Linked DNA regions of Homo sapiens. The protein of the gene in region 3 purifies or fractionates together with the protein of the main gene of each other region. This does not show direct contact. Each region holds a gene or a part of one and is shown on either strand. Other genes may lie near its edges. The genes, in order: TMOD3, SEPHS1, PPIL3, SUGT1, RAD23B and RPAP1.

The links.
Region 1: the proteins of PPIL3 (region 3) and TMOD3 fractionate together in Homo sapiens (co-fractionation; one large-scale study listed by BioGRID). This does not show direct contact.
Region 2: the proteins of PPIL3 (region 3) and SEPHS1 fractionate together in Homo sapiens (co-fractionation; one large-scale study listed by BioGRID). This does not show direct contact.
Region 4: the proteins of PPIL3 (region 3) and SUGT1 fractionate together in Homo sapiens (co-fractionation; one large-scale study listed by BioGRID). This does not show direct contact.
Region 5: the proteins of PPIL3 (region 3) and RAD23B fractionate together in Homo sapiens (co-fractionation; one large-scale study listed by BioGRID). This does not show direct contact.
Region 6: the proteins of PPIL3 (region 3) and RPAP1 fractionate together in Homo sapiens (co-fractionation; one large-scale study listed by BioGRID). This does not show direct contact.

The regions. Positions count from the first base shown.
Region 1 is NC_000015.10:51,895,653-51,899,152, reverse strand, and holds part of TMOD3 (tropomodulin-3), read right to left. Parts: intron 2,735-3,500; coding exon 2,627-2,734; intron 1-2,626. UniProt on the Homo sapiens protein: Blocks the elongation and depolymerization of the actin filaments at the pointed end. The Tmod/TM complex contributes to the formation of the short actin protofilament, which in turn defines the geometry of the membrane skeleton.
Region 2 is NC_000010.11:13,341,794-13,345,293, forward strand, and holds part of SEPHS1 (selenide, water dikinase 1), read right to left. Parts: intron 3,236-3,500; 5' UTR 3,158-3,235; coding exon 2,965-3,157; intron 1-2,964. UniProt on the Homo sapiens protein: Synthesizes selenophosphate from selenide and ATP.
Region 3 is NC_000002.12:200,879,078-200,882,577, reverse strand, and holds part of PPIL3 (peptidyl-prolyl cis-trans isomerase-like 3), read left to right. Parts: intron 1-142; coding exon 143-236; intron 237-1,089; coding exon 1,090-1,157; intron 1,158-3,500. UniProt on the Homo sapiens protein: PPIases accelerate the folding of proteins. It catalyzes the cis-trans isomerization of proline imidic peptide bonds in oligopeptides. May be involved in pre-mRNA splicing.
Region 4 is NC_000013.11:52,659,336-52,662,835, reverse strand, and holds part of SUGT1 (protein SGT1 homolog), read right to left. Parts: intron 1,362-3,500; coding exon of another isoform or gene 1,266-1,361; intron 188-1,265; coding exon 134-187; intron 1-133. UniProt on the Homo sapiens protein: May play a role in ubiquitination and subsequent proteasomal degradation of target proteins.
Region 5 is NC_000009.12:107,330,484-107,332,689, reverse strand, and holds the end of RAD23B (UV excision repair protein RAD23 homolog B), read right to left. Parts: 3' UTR 501-2,206; downstream 1-500. UniProt on the Homo sapiens protein: Multiubiquitin chain receptor involved in modulation of proteasomal degradation. Binds to polyubiquitin chains.
Region 6 is NC_000015.10:41,530,758-41,534,257, reverse strand, and holds part of RPAP1 (RNA polymerase II-associated protein 1), read left to right. Parts: intron 1-3,055; coding exon 3,056-3,235; intron 3,236-3,500. UniProt on the Homo sapiens protein: Forms an interface between the RNA polymerase II enzyme and chaperone/scaffolding protein, suggesting that it is required to connect RNA polymerase II to regulators of protein complex formation.

The DNA.
Region 1 (3,500 bases), on a different chromosome or scaffold from region 3:
TATGTACTAATTTCCAAGGCAGGGGCCAAAAGAAATGGTCAAGGCAGAAGGCCAGAAAAGAACACAGATAACCAGAACCAGAAGAGCACAAAGGCCATTGAGAAGAAGGGGCTAATAAAATATTAAATTCCTCAAGTAATGGTATGTCTTCAATCTGCTTCTATTTCATTTCTCATAGGATACAGTACAGTGTTAGACATTTGACTCAGTGCTTAATAAGTACCATATTGATTAATTAACAGAAGCCTACAAGTGAAAAAAGAAAGAGGAGGGAGACTGGGAAGGAAAGAAAAAGAGACAGAGGTAGGAAGAGAGAAGAAGGGAAGGAAGGAGGGGAAGGAAAGAGAGAGAAAAAAGAACAATGATCATGAGTTTATATAAAACAGCCCCTTAGAGGGATCAAAAGCAAGGTTAAACTACAGAAAATATGGGTAAGACCAAGCTTAAAGTTAAAGGAAAGGCAATAGGGCGTAGAGATACTAAAAAAACTGTGGCTGGTATCTACATACTTGTCCTTTCTATTAGCAACAACTAGCTATGTGACCTGGAACAAATCCCTTATCCATACATGTATTCGAATATTACTGATGGTCTATTATTTGATTAGCACTGTCCTAGAGATTCAGAGATAAAACACATTGGTCCCTGCCTGGCAGAATGTTCATTCTAGCTGGGGAGGGACACAGATAATAAAAGTAAGCAAAGTGCAATGTTAGAGGGTAAAAAGAAAAAAGGCACAATAGGGTAGATGGGGAATACTGGGGGTGGGAATGGGGTTGGTATTTTATATAGCACGGTCAGGAAAAGCCTCAACTAGAAGGTGACATTTGAGCAAAGAGTCAAAGTGATAAGACAAAGCTAAGTGGATTATTTTAGGAAGAAAGTTCAAGGCAGAAGGAACAAATGTACAGGCCCTGATTTGGGAGTCCACATGGCATGCTGAAGAAGGCTGTATGGCTAGAGTAGAATGAAAGAAAGGGCAAGTAAATGAGATGAAGTCCACTCATGTGAAGCCTTATAAGGCCACTGAAAGATTTTTATTTTTACTCTTAATGAGATGGGAAGCTGCTAGAGGGTTATCCGAATAGGAATGAGGTCATTTAACTTAAGTTTTAAAAGAATCACTCTTGGTGCTATGTAAAGAACTGACTTTGGGGTAGGTAAAATAGATGAAGGTAACCCAATTAGGAGGCTGTTGCAATAATCCAGGTGGGAAAAGATGGTGGCTTGGGTCAAGGTGGTAGTTGTGAAAATGGTGAGAAGTGGTTGGATTCTGAAATATTTTGAAGATAGGGCCAAAGGTAGGTTTAAGTTGCAAGAAAGGGATGTCGAGAATGATTCCATTAGTTTTTTGTTTTTTTTTTTTTTTTTGCTGGGCGTGGTGGCTCACGCCTGTAATCCTAGCACTTTGGGAGGTTGAGGTGGGCGGATCACAAGGTCAGGAGCTCGAGACCAGCCTGGCCAATATGGTGAAACCACATCTCTACTATAAATACAAAAATTAGCCAGGCGTGGTGGCGCATGCCTGTAATCCCAGCTACTCAGGAGGCTGAGGCAGGAGAATCGCTTGAACCCGGGAGGCGGAGGTTGCAGTGAGCCGAGATTGCGCCACTGCACTCTAGCCGGGGCAACAGAGTGAGACGCTGTCTCAAAAAAAAAAAAAAAAAAAATTTTTTTTTTTTGTTTGCCTGAGCAATGAAAGATTGAAATTGCATTTAGTAAGATAGAAAACAGCAGAGAAAAGCAGGCACAGGATGGAAGTCAGGAGTTTGAGGACTTACATGTAAGATGTCCATTAGACATCCAAGTAAAGCTGCTGAGGAGGTAGCTGGACATGAATACGGAGTTCAGGAGAGAGATACAAACTGTAGATAATAACACTGGGAGTCATCAGCAAGTATATGAAGATAATATATATATTTCTGAGATTACCCAGAAAGTCAGTGTAGACTGAGAAAAGAAGGACCACGTTCTGGGCCATTCCAATATTTAGAAGTTGAAGAGATATGGAGAAACCAGTACAGGGCTTTGAGAAGGAATGTCCACTGAGGTAAGGGGAGCCCCCAAGGGAGTGAGTGATATTCTCAAAGCCAATGAAACAAAAGGTTTATACCATGATCAAGTGGGATTTATCTCAGGAATGAAAGGCTGGTTCAACATATAAAAGTCAATCAATACACCACATTGACAGAATAAAGGACAAAAACCATATGAACATCTCAAGAGACACAGCAAAAGCATTTAACAAAAATCCACCACTAAGGATCCATAAATGGAATCCTCTGAAGATGTTAAAATAATGTGGTAGATCCCTATGTATTGATACAACAAAACTTTAAAGATAAACTGCAGAGTGAAAAATCAAGTTGCAGAACAGCATATACTACATGATTCCATTTATGTTTTAAAAAATTCATAGGAAGGAGGGGGAAGCTGGGAGGGGGAAAAAATTCATAGGAAGGAAATACAGGAAAAAATAAACACAAAAAGCTGGTAAGTAATATACTGCCTAATAGTGAGCTAAAACATTAACTATAAAAAAGGGGTAAATCTTGTTCATAAAAATCACCACTGTAACACACCCTGGGCATGTCATAATTTTGATATTCTCAAGTCGCTTACTTACAGTAGCAACAGGGTCATTGCTCCGGGTGGCTGCAAGACTGAAACATTTCACATGTGTGTTGGTTTCCAAAGCCTTTGCAAAATCTTTTAGGGTTGGAATTGGGATATTCTTGAAAGACAATAACATAAAACATCATTACATTTCAATTTTCATTATATTTAGTTTCCATTAATCAAATATATGGTTTTTTTTGCTTTAAAATGTATTCAGAAATTATACAAACACCTAAGAATTAGTCTACAAATGAATACAAATAATGCAGCTTCCTCCATAATTATCTGACTTATCTACGATGGAGCATTTGCATAAACTACTGACTCAGAGCAGAGCACATATCACCATTTCTCTAGCATTTAGGTTAAAAAAAATTCTCATTATTCTCACCTTTCATTATTCCTTTTATTTATTTATGTATTTTGAGACAGAGTTTTGCTCTTGTTGCCCAGGTTGGAGTGCAACGGCGCAATCTCAGCTCACTGCAACCTCTATCTCCCAGGTTTAAGCAACCCTCCTGCCTCAGCCTCCCAAGTAGCTGAGATTACAGGCATGCACCACCAGGTCCAGCTAATTTTGTATTTTTAGGAGAGATGGGGTTTCATCATGTTGGTCAGGCTGGTCCCGAACTCCTGACCTCAGGTGATCCACCCTCCTCGGCCTCCCAAAGTGCTGGGATTACAGGCATGAGTCACTGCACCCAGCCTTCATTATTCTTTTTATATGAAAATAAAAGTGGATTTACTTTTCTACAAGGAAAGAAATGAAGGAGTCCATCTCTGATGAGTACGATTCCTGAGGCAGACAGACTGTTCTCAGTCACTTAGTTTAAGCTACAAAGCACTAAGAGAGATTAACCCTACACTACTTGAAGGAGAGA
Region 2 (3,500 bases), on a different chromosome or scaffold from region 3:
TAAAAATACAAAAAAATTAGCTGGGTGTGGTGGTGCACGTCTGTCATTCCAGCTACTTGGAGGGAGGCTGAGGCATGAGAATCAGGCCTGGGAGGGCCTTGAACCCGGGAGGCAGAGGTTGCAGTGAGCTGAGATTGCACCACTGTACTCAAGCCTGGGTGATGGAGTGAGACTCTATCTCAAGGAAAAAAAAAAAAAAAAGATGGCGGGGCGCGGTGTCTCACGCCTGTAATCCCAGCACTTTGGGAGGCCGAGGCAGGCGGATCACGAGGTCAGGAGATCGAGACCACTGTGAAACCCCGTCTCTACTAAAAATACAAAAAATTAGCCAGGCATGGTGGCGGGCGCCTGTAGTCCCAGCTACTCGGGAGGCTGAGGCAGGAGGATGGCGTGAACCTGGGAGGCGGAGCTTGCAATGAGCGGAGATCGCGCCACTGCACTCCAGCCTGGGCGACAGAGCGAGACTCCGTCTCAAAAAAAAAAAAAGTTAAAAAAATAAACATACAGCCGGGTGCGGTGGCTCACGCCTGTAATCCCAGCACTTTGGGAGGCTGAGGTGGGTGGATAACCTGAGCTCAGGAGCTTGAGACCAGCCTGGCCAACACCTTGAAACCCCGTCTCTACTAAAAACACAAAAAAATTTAGCTGGGTGTGGTGGCATGCGCCTGTAGTCCCAGCTACTTGGGAGGCAGAGGCAGGAGATCACTGCTTGAACCTGGGAAGCGGAGGTTGCAGTGAGCTGAGATTGTGCCACTGCACTCCAGCCTGGGCGACACAGTGAGACTTCATCTCAACAACAACAAAAAAAAGGTCAAAAACACCCATACATATATACCATATATACTTGTGTACAGAGGGTATACACATACATGTATTATATATGTAAGTACAGACATACATGGCACACCTACACACATTTTTGGTACAACAATGCAAAACAGTAATCTTTTTTTTTTTTTTGAGGCAGGGTCTCACTCTGTCTCCCAGGCCGCAGTACAGTGGTGTGACCTCAGCTCACTGTAGCCTCTGCCTCCCGGGCTCAAGGGATCCTCCCACCTCAGCCTCCCGAGTAGCTGAAACTACAGGTGTACACCAGCAAGCCCAGGTAACTTTTGTATTTTTAGTAGAGATGGGTTTCACCATTTTGCCCAGGCTGGTCTTGAACTCCTGACCTTGAGTGATCTGCCCATCTTGACCTCCCAAAGTGCTGGGATTACAGGTGTGAGCCACCGCACCCAACCCCAAACAGTAATTATTATTTTATAGATTAGGAAGCTGAGGCTCAGGAGGGCTGGGTGACATTCATGACATAATATGAGTGACTAGTAAGTAACTGTGCCAGAGGAAGTTATAAATAGTAATTCTTACTTTATGCCGTAATGTTTTAATTTCATTGGTTTTTGAGCATTAAGTATTAATAGCTTTTTTTCTTGACAGTTATCTAACAGCTTCCTCAGTATATTCTCATTTCTCGACAAATAAGCCAACATCAAACCCAGCTCGCTCACATGGTATTTCTCCACAGCTTGGCCATCAGCTGGACGGCAGGAACTGTTTTCAAACTGAGCTCCTCAAAGTCCTGCAGGTCACCAGCGACTGGGGTGTAACATTTCTTCCTTTCCAACAAAAGCAAGTCTGCTTTTATCTGCTTTCTCTATCTGGGAGTAAAGGAGACCCCAGGCTCATAACCAATGAACCTTACCAAATAATGGGCAAAAACAAATGAAATGAAAACCTTGGCTGGGTGTGGTGGCTTACACCTGTAATCCCAGCACTTTGGGAGGCTGAGGCAGGCAGATCACCTGAGGTCAGGAGTTCGAGAACAGCCTGGCCAACATGGTAAAACTCCCATCTCTACTAAAAATACAAAAATTAGCCGGGCATGTGGCAGGGGCCTATAATCCCAGCTACTCAAGAGGCTGAGGCAGAAGAATCGCATGAACCCAGGAGGCAGAGGTTGCAGTGAGCCAAGATCACGCCACTGCACTCCAGCCTGGGTGACAGAGTGAGAATCCATTTCAAAAAAAAAGGAAGAAAACTGATCAAGTCACACAGTAATTATCGAACATCCAAACCTCCGAAACTATGCGTCGAACACAAGAAAAGTGATCACAGTCTTGTACTGTGTACTTAATAAACTGCACAAGAAACATGAATAAACAATATCCCAGGAGCCCAGAATTTGTTTCTAAGCTCTGTGTTTGGGAAAAGTGAAATCACTCATGACATCAGGAATGTAGTAAAGAAAAAGACATTGCCCTGGTTCCAGATGACATCCTGGGGTCAAGAACAGATCCATCCAGTCCTGGGTCTGGAGCAGTCCCACCTCCTCACCGTAACACGCTTTTCGCCCGATGCACCCTGCAGAGAACCCCAATGCCCTCCTGACACAGTCACTGCCATCCAAGTACAGCACAAGAACCCTAAGGCTGGAACCGCCTTTCCTAGGGCAATGAAGGGAATGTGAGCATTTTAGGAGTCCTTTTAGGAAAAGGGAATAAAGTATTTCTGCTTAATCTTCAGCTAACAGAAAATTCAATTCAATTAAATTGAAAATAAAAATTAAAAAGTTTTTACTGTAATAACAATCTCAATTGCATACTCCATGATTTAAAAACTGTCAAGAGTACCCCTCTTGATGCGTTTCAAGTACTTTCTCTACATAAGTTACAAGAACATAACATAGCAATCATAACATTGATTGCTCTTCTAATCCTTCCCACAAAAATTAAAAAAAAATAAAGGGGGTACGATGTACACTATTTGGGTGATGGCTACACTAAAAGCCTAGTCTTCACCATTATGTAATATATTCATGTAACAAAACTGCATGTGTATTCCTCAAATCTATAAAAGCAAAAAAAGTAATAATAAAAAATAAATAGGCAACATGGGAGGCGAGAAATCCAGTTTTTGACTCACTGATTGGATCGCAGACCATCAAAGAAACACTGGGTTACCTACCAAGCCTTGGCATAACGGCTCCCAGAAACTGCTCATCTTCTTGGAAGTGGTTCTCCTGTAAAGATTCCAGCAATTTTTGCAGGACATCTTGGGGCACTTTGCAGCCTGTGCCCTTCAGTTCAGTGAATCTGGTTAGCCGGAAGCTTTTGTCCAATTCGTAACTTTCCGGGTTAAAGGACTCCCGCGTAGACATGGTTCTTGGGCCCCGCTCTCCTCACAGCTCAGCCCCTCCCCTCCCTCTGCGGGTTGGCTGGGTTCTTTATGGATCCACCTGGGTGTCACCAAAACACAAAGATGCCATGAAAAGAATTCCCACTGGGACCTGCCAGCGAATCAAGTGAATACATGACAGCGAAAAGTCAATGTGACAAGGGCTGAAATCATCAAGACCACTTATATTCACCACAGCAGTGCATATGACAAAATAGATCTTTTCATAACGGGACTGCGTCAGCACAGACATCTATGTAAAATCTGACATCTGGACTGTGGTTTTAACTGTGGCAAGAGGGCCAGCCTGCAGGTTCACATGACAC
Region 3 (3,500 bases):
TAGGCAGGGAAATGACATCCAAAGTAATGACAACAGTCATAGTTTAAATATGCTGCTATCACGTTTTCAGTAAATATGATTGGTTTTTTGTCTTAACTGGGTTTCTGCTGCATCATTTCTCAATCATTTTTACTCCCTTCAGAATTTCTTGGCTCTTTGTGCCAGTAATTACTACAATGGCTGTATATTTCATAGGAATATCAAGGGTTTCATGGTTCAAACAGGAGATCCAACAGGTAAGTTATTCCATTAACCAAGATCTAAGGAACTGAATGTATAGTATGAAGAAGTGGGTAAAAGAAGAGGAATTAAATACGTGGAGTTTTTGTTTTGTTTTGTTTTGTTTAATAAGTTCTGTTCTACAAGTACAGAACATGCAGGTTTGTTACATAGGTATATGTGTGCCATGGTGGTTTGCTGCACCTATCAGCCTGTCCTCTAGGTTTTAAGCCCAGCATGCATTAGCTATTCGTCCTAATGCTCTCCCTCCCCTTGCCCCCACCCACAACTAGCCCTGCTGTGTGTTGTTCCCCTCCTTGTGTCCATGTGATCTCATTGTTCAACTCCCACTTATGAGTGAGAATATGCGGTGTTTGGTTTTCTGTTCCTGTGTTAGTTTGCTGAGAATGATGGCTTCCAGCCATCCATGTCCCTGCAAAGGACATGATCTCATCCTTTTTATGGCTGCATAGTATTACATGGTGCAATTTTAAAGCAGAAATTATTAGCACCTACCCCTAAAATGTGAACAATATTGTGCTCACTTTGGCAGCACATATACTAAAATTTGAACAATACAGAGAAGATTAGTGTGGCCCCTGCACAAGGATGAGACACAAATTTGTGAAGCTTTTCATACTTAAATATATATGAACAATATTTATAAGGAGGGTTATTCTTTTTTGTTTTTTGTAGGTCTGTTTTAATCTTCAGGTCTGTGAAGTTAAATTTGGGGAATTAGGAAAGGCCATATCAAATTTTATCTATATTTAAGCAGTCAAACTATAAAGTATTCCTTAAGTTTTGGGAAATGAACTTGTTTTCAATTTAATTAAATACTTCTTTTGATTTGCTTCACTTGTAATGTAGGAACTGGAAGAGGAGGCAACAGTATTTGGGGCAAGAAGTTTGAGGATGAATACAGTGAATATCTTAAGGTAAATCCTCAATGCTTTAAAAATCTATTTCTCATGCCTTGGTTATGCATGGAAACTTTGATACATGTGTCATAGTGATACAAGTTAACATCATTGCAAAATGAACATACTTTTTTATAGTTTTTGTACATTTGACAAATGATGTCGGGGAGACTTGAGAAATGGTGATCCTAGCCTGACATGTGTACTGGAATCCCACCACCACGTGGCTCTTGATAGTAAGTGAGTTCATCTTTGAATCTAACCTGAAATGTTTAACTAGTAGTGTACCAAAGAGACTTAATATCTCACCATAAAATTCATGTTGAATGACATGAAACAGTGGCCTTTTTTGAGAGTGGGGAGGAAAGACTATCAAACTTCCTGGTTGCAATGTTGCCCATTATCAGTACCCAGCTTTTATCATCTTCTGTTAGATGTTTGAACATCCCTGTATTAATATGACTTAATACCTATGGTAGATCACAACTAGGTTAAAGAGTAGTACATATAAATAGTCTTTAACATGGTAAAATTAGGGATTTTTAATTTTCTTTGTTATATTTTTCTGTGTTTTTCAAACCTCTGTGGAGTCATTTTTTTTTTTTGTCTAAAATTAAAAATTAGTGCATGCCTAGTTTTAAAAATCAATCCCACTTCCCAGAGATAACTTCAGTTGATGACTTATTATGTGGTCTTTCAAACTTTGTATCTCCATAGAATGATAACTTTATGATTAGAAAAAGAGCAATGAAGTATCCTCAACCAGGGCCGGGTACAGTAATCCCAGCACTTTGAGAAGCCCAGTAAGGAGGATTGCTTGAGGCCAAGAGTTTGAAACCAGCCTGGGCAACATAGTGAGACCCCCATCTCCACAAAAAAATACAAATATTAGCCTGTTATAGTGGCGTGTGCCTGTAGTCCCAGCTACTCAAGAGGCTGAAGTGGGAGGATTGCTTGAGCCCAGGAGATCAAGGCTGCAGTGAGCCAAGATCATGCACAGAACGAGACCCCACTCAAAAAAAAAAAAAAGTCTACTCAATCAAAATATGCAGTTTAAGTGTATTATTATATTTCCATTACATTAAAATGTACCCACAAAAATTCTGAAAAAAATTCATTGCAGTGTTTATCTCTGGATGATGAGACTAGGAGTAATTTCTTTTCTTTTTGCTTTTTTTAAAACCTTTTTTTAGAGACAGGGTCTTGTTCTGTCCCCTGGGCTGGAGTGCAGTGATGCATTCTTGGCTCACTGCAGACTAAATTTTCTGGGCTCAGGTGATCCTCCCACCTCAGCCTCCAGAGTAGCTGGGACTACAGGTGCATGTCACCATGCCTGGCTAATGTTTGTATTTTTTGTACAGATGGTGTCTCACTATGTTGCCCAAGCTGGTTCATTTTACTTTTCTATTGTAAGGAAATGTATTAGTTTTGTTACAGGAGTTGAGGCTGGGAGGTGATAAACTTTTTGAAAAGTCAACTTTTTCCTGAATGAATAACTAAACAATTTTTTAGGTATTAATTATTACATTAATGACTGCTTCCATATACCAGCTGAAAACCAGAGACTGGCTATGACAGAATCACCTGTGGAACTTTGTTGTTTGTTTTTGAGACTGGGTCTCACTCTGTTGCCTAAGCTGAGTGCAGTGGCCTGATCACGGTTCACTGCAGCCTTGACCTGAGCTCAAGCAGTTTCTCCTGCCTCAGCCTCTCAAGTGGCTGGACCACAGGAGTGCACCACCGTGCCCAGCTAATTTCTGATTTTTTGTAGAGACGAGGTCTTGCTCTGTTGCCCAGTCTGGTCTGAAACTCCTGGACTAAGATGATCCTCCTGTCTTGGCCTCCCAAAGTGTTGGGATTATAGGAGTGAGCCACTGCACTTGGCTGGAAGTTTTAAAACTATAACAGATCATGGCCTTGCCCTCCTAAAAATAAAGTCAGTAGGGCTGGTTAGGACTTAGACTATATTTTAAGGTTCCTAGATGATTCTTTTGCAGGCAGAGTTAAGAACCATTATATAGGCCGGGCGCGGTGGCTCACACCTGTAATCCCAGCACTTTGGGAGGCCGAGGCGGGCGGATCACGAGGGCAGGAGATCAAGACCATGCTGGCTAACACAGTGAAACCCCGTCTCTGCCAAAAAATACAAAAAATTAGCCAGGTGTGGTGGTGGGTGCCTGTAGTCCCAGCTACTTGGGAGGCTGAGGCAGGAGAATGGCCTGAACCCGGGAGGCAGTGCTTGCAGTGAGCCGAGATCGTGCTGCTGCACTCCAGTCTGGGCGACAGAGCGAGACTCCGTCTAAAAAAAAAAAAGAACCATTATATTATACACCTTATACACCAAGATTGTGGATATGTATT
Region 4 (3,500 bases), on a different chromosome or scaffold from region 3:
AAGTCCACATCTAAGGAAACGTATACTATTTAAAAGAAATTATAAAGATAAAAACAAATTTGTTTAAACCAAAAAAATTTCAGATGTTTACTTCTTTTTAAATTGAAACAAATACCAAGGGAGACCCACATACCATTCTGAGCTTCTTGACACCTTTTAATCCAGACACTGAAATTAGCATCTGCACCTAGAAAGAAAAAACTGACTATAACATCACTCATCTGCACAACCTATAAATCAACAAATACTTACTGAATACCTACTACATCCCAGGCAGTGTTCTAGGCACTGGGGAGTCGGCAGCGAACAAAACCTGTCTTAACAGACCTTATCACCAACTCTACTATAGTTATAAATATACCAATAGTTTAACATTTAGTTGTTAATCATGAAACATTTTGATTTTTTAAAAATTTTAACTACAGTCAACCTTAATTTCACAGATACAAATAATCTGCATTTCCCCCAATCCCGCTGCTCTTAGAGAAGCTTCCTCACACACAGAACAAAATCAGATGTAAATCAGACTCCCAATATGCCATCAGTTAGGGTGGGGAGGAGGCTTGGTAACTGGGAGCTGAGTTGAGGTTCAAAAGCCGTTCCCAGCCCCAGCTTGCTCTTCAATGCAGATACCTATTCAGTCCACTATTCTCTCAGTGGCTTTATCTGTTACCATGCCTTTCCTACCAACACCAAGCATCTTTAAATTCCGTGAAGTTTTGTCCTATCTCCAAGTTACATGGCAGTCGAGAGGCTATAGGTGATGTATTATATATTTATAGATAACAGTGTAAATGTATGCATAAACAAATTATTCACTTCTGGAGACACAGAACAATGATTACATTTAAACAGTCACAGTGCATAGTAAGATATGTTAAAAGTATTAAAAGTACTCTAAATAAGAGCTTATTAATTCAAGTTAACTGCAGACAAGATAAATTTGAAAATCTTAAATTAAAAATTTCTTAACAAAAATTTCTACTTTACTAATTTATAAAAGAAATCCAACTATACCAGCATTAATAAAAAATTTAAATACACTCTCACACACACTGTATTCTAGAGAACTATTGTATCAAAATCTATTATATCAAAAAGATTTGAGTAACCTATTATTTTAAGTAATCAGTAACTAAAACCAAGCAATTTATCACACAAAGAGGGGAAAAGGTAACAATTCTTTACCCTGTCTGATAAAAATAGAAGCCTAAAAGTTTAACTTAACTTTTTCCCAGATTTTGGCCGGGCATGGTGGCTCATACCTGTAATCCCAGCACTTTGGGAGTCCAAGGCAGGTGGATCACTTGAGGTCAAGAGTTGGAGACCAGCCTGGCCAACACGATGAAACCCCGTCTCTACTAAAAATACAAAAATTAGCCAGGCTTGGTGGTGCATGCCTGTAGTCCCAGCTGCTCAGGAGGTTGAGGCAGGAGAATCACCTGAACTTGAGAGACAGAGAACTGCACTATGGCCTGGACAACACAGTGAGACTCAGTCTCAAAAAAAGAAACAAACAAACAAACAAACAAAAACAAAAAAAAACCCCAAAAAACAACAACAAAAAAAGTTTCCTGGATTTAAAGACAAATTTATTTTTAAGTAAAATATCCTCAACAGCAATTTTACCAAACAGGTCTTCCTCTGAAGGCCACCTCTGAAATAACTAAAGAATAAATGTCAATGGCATGATATTAAGATATTACTCAAGAAAATAATCTAGGGGCCAGACGCAGTGGCTCATGCCTGTAACCCCAGCACTTTCAGAGGCCGAGGCAGGCAGAACGCTTGAGTCCAGGAGTTCAAGACCAGCCTGGGCAACATGGCAAATCCCCATCTCTGCAAAAAATAAAATGCAAAAATTAGTCAGGTGTGGTGGCATGTGCCTGTAGCCCCAGTTACTCAGGAGGCTGAGGTGGGAGGATCACTTGAGCCCAAGAGGTGGAGGCTGCAGTGACCCAAGATCGCACCACTGCACTCCAGCCTGGGCGACAGAGCGAGACCTTCTCTCGCTAAAAAAAGAAAGAAAAATGAAAATGTAGAGAATGGTATGACTCATGTTTCTTCAGGATTTTCACATTAGGTACCAAGGCACTACATAACTTCACTCTAGAATTTGCTAAGAGTGCAGATGTCCTGTTTGCTGACTGAATAGGCCTACTATTCACATACCAAAACTGGGATAAGCAAGTTTGAGAATAAGCCTTATCACCCAGACCTCTCCTTTTTTAATTTGTAGCTTCCATTTGCATAATCAGTGCTAAAATCCTTTTTTCTGAATAGGTACACAACAGAAAGGCAAACATTCAAAACAGTACAGAGTAAGAATGTAACATAAAATACTAAGAGTGAAGTTTCTTAATTTCAGCACTACTGACATTTTGGACCATATACTTCTTTGTTAGGCAGAACTGTCCTGGGCATTATAGAATATTTAGTAGCACCCCTGGTTTATACTCATTAGATGTCAGTAGCACAACCCCCATCCACCATTCATGATTATCAAAAATCTCTTCAGACATTGCATAAAGTTTCCTGGGAAGCAAAACCGTTTCCAGTTAAGAACCACTTCTTTAGAGAACTGTGATAAAACTCTATCATAACATAAAGATAAAATGATAATACAAGTAGGATTATGTAGTCTCCAATTTTCTGAAATTACTCACAACCTCTTAGTATTTTTCAGATTTAAAAATTCTTGGCTCTCGGCTGGGTGCAGTGGCTCATGCCTGTAATCCCAGCACTTTGGGAGGCCGAGGAGGGTGGATCACAAGGTCAGGAGATTGAGACCATCCTGGCTAACATGGTGAAACCCCATCTCTACTAAAAATACAAAAAAATTGGCCGGGCGTGGTGGTGGTCGCCTGTAGTCCCAGCTACTCGGGGGGCTGAGGCAGAAGAATGGCGTGAACCCGGGAGGCAGAGCTTGCAGTGAGTCGAGATCGCGCCACTGCACTCCAGCCTGGGCGACAGAGTGAGACTCCGTCTCAAAAAAAAAAAAAAAAAAAAAAAAAAAAAAAATATATATATATATATATATATATATTCTTGACTCTCACAATTTCTATATGTCTAGATATCCACACCACTGTGATACTTTTCATATATTCCCTCAAGAATATAACATTAAAAGTCACAATACTCTCAAAACTGTGTTTCTTCTGTACCCTCTCATAATTTACCCAAACGTACACTTCACTTCTCCATAAAAACCTTTAATGTTAAGATTTCACATCTCAGCAATCTGAATAATTTAAAATGAACAGACTTCTGACCAAGGCAAATTAAACTTTCACTTCTCCATTAGAAAAAAACAAAGCCAGACTAAACAGAGAGAGCATGTTAGGTGTTTCCATAGTTTTTTTTACTTCTAATGGTGAAGTTCATCTATGATTTAAATGCCAAAAGGCTAATTTAATCGATTTTAAGTGATCTCATATCTGCAATCAATATGAAATATAATTTAGATGAGAAAAACAGGTATTGGGTTTCTACAATTA
Region 5 (2,206 bases), on a different chromosome or scaffold from region 3:
AAATGTAAAGATCACTCTTAGTTCATGGACCACATAACAGGTATATGCCAGATTTGGCTCATGAAGCTGTAGTTTGCCAGCCCTTGGCTTAGGGGGAAAAAATGGGGAAAATGGATGGGGGAGGCCAACTGAACTTCATGGCTGGAGAATCCACCAGAACTGACTGGGTCAGGAACACTCATTCCCTCCAATTGCTTACTTTCGGTAGAACATTTTGCAGCAGGCTTTGGCTGGCTGCTTCAGACAAGTATGGAACAATGGAAATTTTATGCATTCCCTAGAAGACCTCACTAACCTTAACATCCCAGCAAGTATCCCATCTCTGTGTTGAGAAAAGAACCAGGAGACCCAATAAAGTCAATCTAGTGCCTGGGCCTCCTATATGATACACTCACCAATTACTGAAGTAAAAAGAAGTATCAGTGACAGAAGCATTGTCAACTTTCAATTCTGATTCTACGTGACAGAATCATTTAAAAAATGAGAAGTGCAATGTTGGATGTATTGAAAATATTTTATAATCAATTCTCTAGAATCCTAGCCATCCAGTACAGGAAAAAATTATATTGGAACACTTCCGTATTTTTAAACAATGAAAAAAAATTTGACTAGAGGATGGCATAAGAAATTTACAAATACAAACTTAGGCTTCCTCACATTTCCCACAGAGCAACTAAACGAGAAAAAGATTTCAAGAAATGACAGTATACCTCGAATGCAAAATTCCAAAGTCAAATAGCTACTTACATTAAGAGATTTACCAAAACAGTTTGTAAATTAAACATTAACAGCAAAAGGCACAAAAAGCCTATTTCTTTTATGGTGTCTCGGCTGATTCTTTAAGAAGCAGATAAACAAGGTACTGTATGGAACGATCAAAACTTGGCCTGAGCTGTCTTCTGATAATTAATCCTAGTATATCCAGATTTGTTGTCCAAGGACACAAGCTCCATGCCACCTTCTGCTGTCACTTTCCAAGAAGAGGCTGTTTTTTTTTTTTGTTTCCAGTTTTCACTATGATCTGAGTAGACAGAGAATGTCATAAAATAAATGAGAGTATTCCATTATCCGATCAGAAATGCCACCTCTTTTCCCAACTCATTGCTCTGACTTGAAAGATGAACGTATATATGAATTCTCATTTTATTCTCCTGAGAAATTATGCATGATCCATTATAAAACATACAGGTAATACAAAGTCCAAAAGCCTGTCATGTTTATGGCAGTGGTGTGATCTCAGCTCACGGCAACCTTCACTTCCCGGGTTCAAGCAATTCTCATGCCTCAGCCTCCCAAGTAGCTGGGACCACAGGCGTGCGCCACCATGCCTGGCTATTTTTTGTATTTTTAGTATAGACGGGGTTTCGCCATGACGGTCAGGCTGGTCTCAATCTCCTGGCCTCAAGTGATCTGCCCACCTCGGCCTCCCAAAGTGCTGGGATTATAGGCATGAGCCACCATACCCAGCCAGTTTCATTTATTTTCATAATAGGTTATGAGTACGTGATGTAAATGCTTAAAAGTCATCATCACCATACTGTGCTAAAGATATTGAGAAATTATGCAGAGAAATCTGTGCAAATTCATCTTCTTAGTATCAGATGGTTAAAAAAAAGGAAACAAAAAACAAAAGCAATCCAAATTATTTCTTTAAATACTCTTATTTATACTCAGGAAAACAGATTTGAAAAACTGAACAAGTAGACATCTGCCCCGTTTATGATTAAATAACAATGCCAATGAAGGAGATTCCACAGAAAAAACTGAGATGAAAAAATCCAAATAAAAGCCAACACTGCTATTAAGATTTTTCTTTTAATATGCCATGAGATATCTTGATTGTATATTTTCCAAAGTACTTTCCAGCCACATCTCCCAACCCATCCAAAAGACTTTGCCAGTCTTTCCAATGCAATAAAAGATGCTGGATTATAGTTTTGTCTACCATTTCTTTTTGAAAGCAATATTATACTAATGACTTTAATGGTAATACACTCTTATCTAATAAAGAAACACATTTACAAATATCAGAAACCCAGTTTTGAAACATTTGCATTAATTTTGAACTGAATCAGCATTTTGTGGGTTTTTTAAAAGGCAGCAGTTTGACTCACGACTTGCTGATAAACACGTTTCTGCTGAGGGAAGGGGAAAAGACAGGGAGAGTGAATGCTGCATTTCTCCATTGGCCCCAAAAGTGCTAATT
Region 6 (3,500 bases), on a different chromosome or scaffold from region 3:
TTAGTAGAGGTAGGGTTTCTCCATGTTGGTCAGGCTGGTCTCGAACTCCCAACCTCAGGTGATCTGCCCTCCTCGGCCTCCCAAAGTGCTAGGATTACAAGCATGAGCCACCATGCCCGGCCTTTTTTTTTTTTTGAGATGGAGTTTCGGTCTTGTTGCCCAGGTTAGAGTGCAATGGCGCGACGTAGGCTCACTGCAACCTCCGCCTCCTGGGTTCAAATGATTCTCCTGCCTCAGCCTCCTGAGTATCTGGGATTACAGGTGCCCACCACCATACCCAACTAATTTTTGTATTTTTAGTAGAGACGGAGTTTCACCATGTTGGCCAGGCTGGTGTCGAACTCCTGACCTCAGGTGATCCACTGGCCTTGGCCTCCCAAAGTGCTGGAGCCACTGCGCCTAGGTTTTTTTTTTTTTTTAAGACGGATTTTTCCTCTTGTTGCCCAGGCTGGAGTGCAATGGCGCAATCTCTGCTCACTGCAACCTCTGCCTCCCAGGTTCAAGCAATTCTCCTGTCTCAGCCTCCAAAGTAGCTGGGATTACAGGCGCCTGCCACCATGCCTGGCTAATTTTTTTATTTTTTGTATTTTTAGTAGAGACGGGGTTTCCCTGTATTGGCCAGGCTGGTTTCGAACTCTTGACCTCAGGTGGATCAAAGTGCCTCCCAAAGTGCTGGGATTACAGGTGTGAGCCACCGTGCCTGGCCCCCAGCGAATTTCTTTTAAGGTTTTTGTAGAGATGAGGTCTCACTATATTGCACAGGTTGGTTTTTGTTTTTTGTTTTTTGTTTTCAGAGTCTCCCTCTGTCACCCAGGCTGGAGTGGAATGGCACGATCTCGGCTCACTGCAACCTCTGCCTCCCAGGTTCAAGTGATTCTTGTGCCTCAGCCTTTTCAGCAGCTGGAATTAGAGGTGTGTACCACCATGCTTGGCTAATTTTTTTTATTTTCAGTAGAGATGGGGTCTCACCATGTTGGCCAGGCTAGTTTCGAACTCCTGGCATCAAGTGATCCACCGACCTCAGCCTCCCAAAGTGCTGGGATTACAGGCATGAGCCACCGTGCCTGACCTTTAATGCATTATTCAGTTCTGTCCTTAAACTTGTCCTGTGAGGTAGGTGGTATTAACCCTATTTTACTTATGAAAGAAACTGAGGCCTAAAATTTAAAAGAAATTCTACCCAGGTCACACACCTTATAAGAAGCACAGGACACAGGATTTAAACCCAGATCTACCTGGTCTCATATGCCCTGCTTTTTTTTTTTTTTTTTTTTTTTTTGAGACGGAGTCTCGCTCTGTTGTCCTGGGTGGAGTACAGTGACACGATCTCAGCTCACTGCAACCTGTACCTCCCTAGTTCAAGCGATTTTCCTGCCTCAGCCTCCTGAGTAGCTGGGATTACAGATGTGCACCACCACACCCAGCTAATTTTTTTGTATTTTTAGTAGAGATGGGTTTCACCATGTTGGCCAGGCTGGTCTTGAACTCCTGACCTCCAGCGACCCATCTGCCTCGGCCTGCTGAAGTGCTGCGATTTTTTTTTTGAGATGGTCACCGTGCCCAGCCGAGGCCCTACTTTTTAACCACTGTGCTATGTATAACTGTACTACCCTGGTATAGTATACACTATGCTTTATTATAGCTATACTCTAGTATATGTATAGTCTCTTCTACTCTGTGATACTGTTCTATGCTATGCCTCACCCCTAGTGTCTGTTCACCAAAATGCCAGGCACTCAGTCAATCTTGTTACCCACTGTATACTAGCACCTCTATAGAGTATAATACGTGTTAGGGCTCAGTATGGTGCCTTGCCCTGTAATTCCAGCACTTTGGGAGGTTGAGGTGAGAGGATTGCTTGAGGCCAAGAGTTTACGACCAGCTTGAGGAACATCATGAGACCCCATCTCTACAAAAAATAAAGATATAAAAAATTACAGCCAGGTGTGGAGGCTCACGCCTGTAATCCCAGCACTTTGGGAGGCTGAGGTGGGCGGATCACAAGATCAAGACATTGAGACCATCCTGGCCAACACGGTGAAACCCTGTCTCTACTAAAAATACAAAAATTAGCTGGGCGTGGTGGCACACGCCTGTAGTCCCAGCTACTCGGGAGGCTGAGGCAAGAAAATCACTTGAACCCGGGAGGCGGACCTTGCAGTGAGCCGAGATCGTGCCATGGCACTCCAGCCTGGGCGACAGAGTGAGACTCTGTCTCAAAAAAAAAAAAAAAAATTAGCCAGATATGGTGGTGCATGCCGGTAGTCCCAGTTACTTGGGAGGCTGAGGCGGGAGGATTGCTTGAGCCCAGGAGTTTGAGGCTGTGGTGAGCTACGATTGTGCCACTGCACTCCAGCATGGGTAACAGAGCAAGACCCTATCTCTTTAAAAATATATATTTACAGCCTGAGCAACATGGTAAAACCCCGTCTCTAGTAAAAATACAAAAATTAGCCAGGCGTGGTGGCAGGCACTTTTAATCCCAGCTACTCAGGAGGCTGAGGCAGGAGAATCCCTTGAACCTGGGAGATGGAGGTTGCAGTAAGTTGAGATTGCACCACTGCACTCCAGCCCGGGCGACACAGCGAGATTCCGTCTCAAAAAAAAAAAAAAAAAAAAAAAAAAAAAAATATATATATATATATATATATATATATGTGTGTGTGCATAAATAAATTAGCTAAGAGAAGGAAATTCTTTCTGTAAATGCCTTCTTTTTGGCCCTAGTCAACATTAACTTATTCATTCTACAGCCACTTACATTGGAACTGTGACCTGAAACCAAAGGGATAGGCATAGGAACCTGGGCCAGTGGACTGTGAGGGATAGAGGGAAAGGTGGGCAGGTGGGCAGGTGGGCCTAGTGACCCCACAGGTGTGAGAAGGCTGGGTCATTGATGGGCCACAGGAGCACCCAGAAGGCTCAGGCCCAGGCTCGGAAGCAGCTTGTCCTGTCCTTGGCACCCACAGACAGGCGATATTCAGCGGGTTCCAGGTCTGTAGGAGGCCAGGGAGGATCTACCCTCACTCACTCTCCCCTCTACCTTCGCCTCTAGACCCCAGCTTGGTTGCTTTCTTGAGATCTCACAGCCACACGCAAGAGCAAACAGGAGAGACAGCCTCTGAGGAGCAGAGGCCAGGAGGACCCTCTGCTAATGTCACCAAGGAGGAACCCCTCATGTCAGCTTTTGCCAGTGAGCCCAGGAAGAGAGACAAGCTGGAGCCAGAAGCCCCAGGTTTGCAGGAGGCGGGGGTCATATTTTGGTGGATAAAAGTAGGGGAAATTGTCCCTTTTCCTAGGCCTGGCAAATGAGAGAAGAGAGAAGCTTCTGTGCTTTTGGACATCTAACATTAATCCTCATTATTGGCTTCAAGTCAGTCTTCATTGCTGATGCATGTCTTCTTCCTGCACATGCTTCCTGTTTTCTTGTCCTGTTACTGCCCCTTCTCCGCCTTCCCTTTTAAGAGGCAGCAATGCGTGATGGCTGAATCCCACTCCAC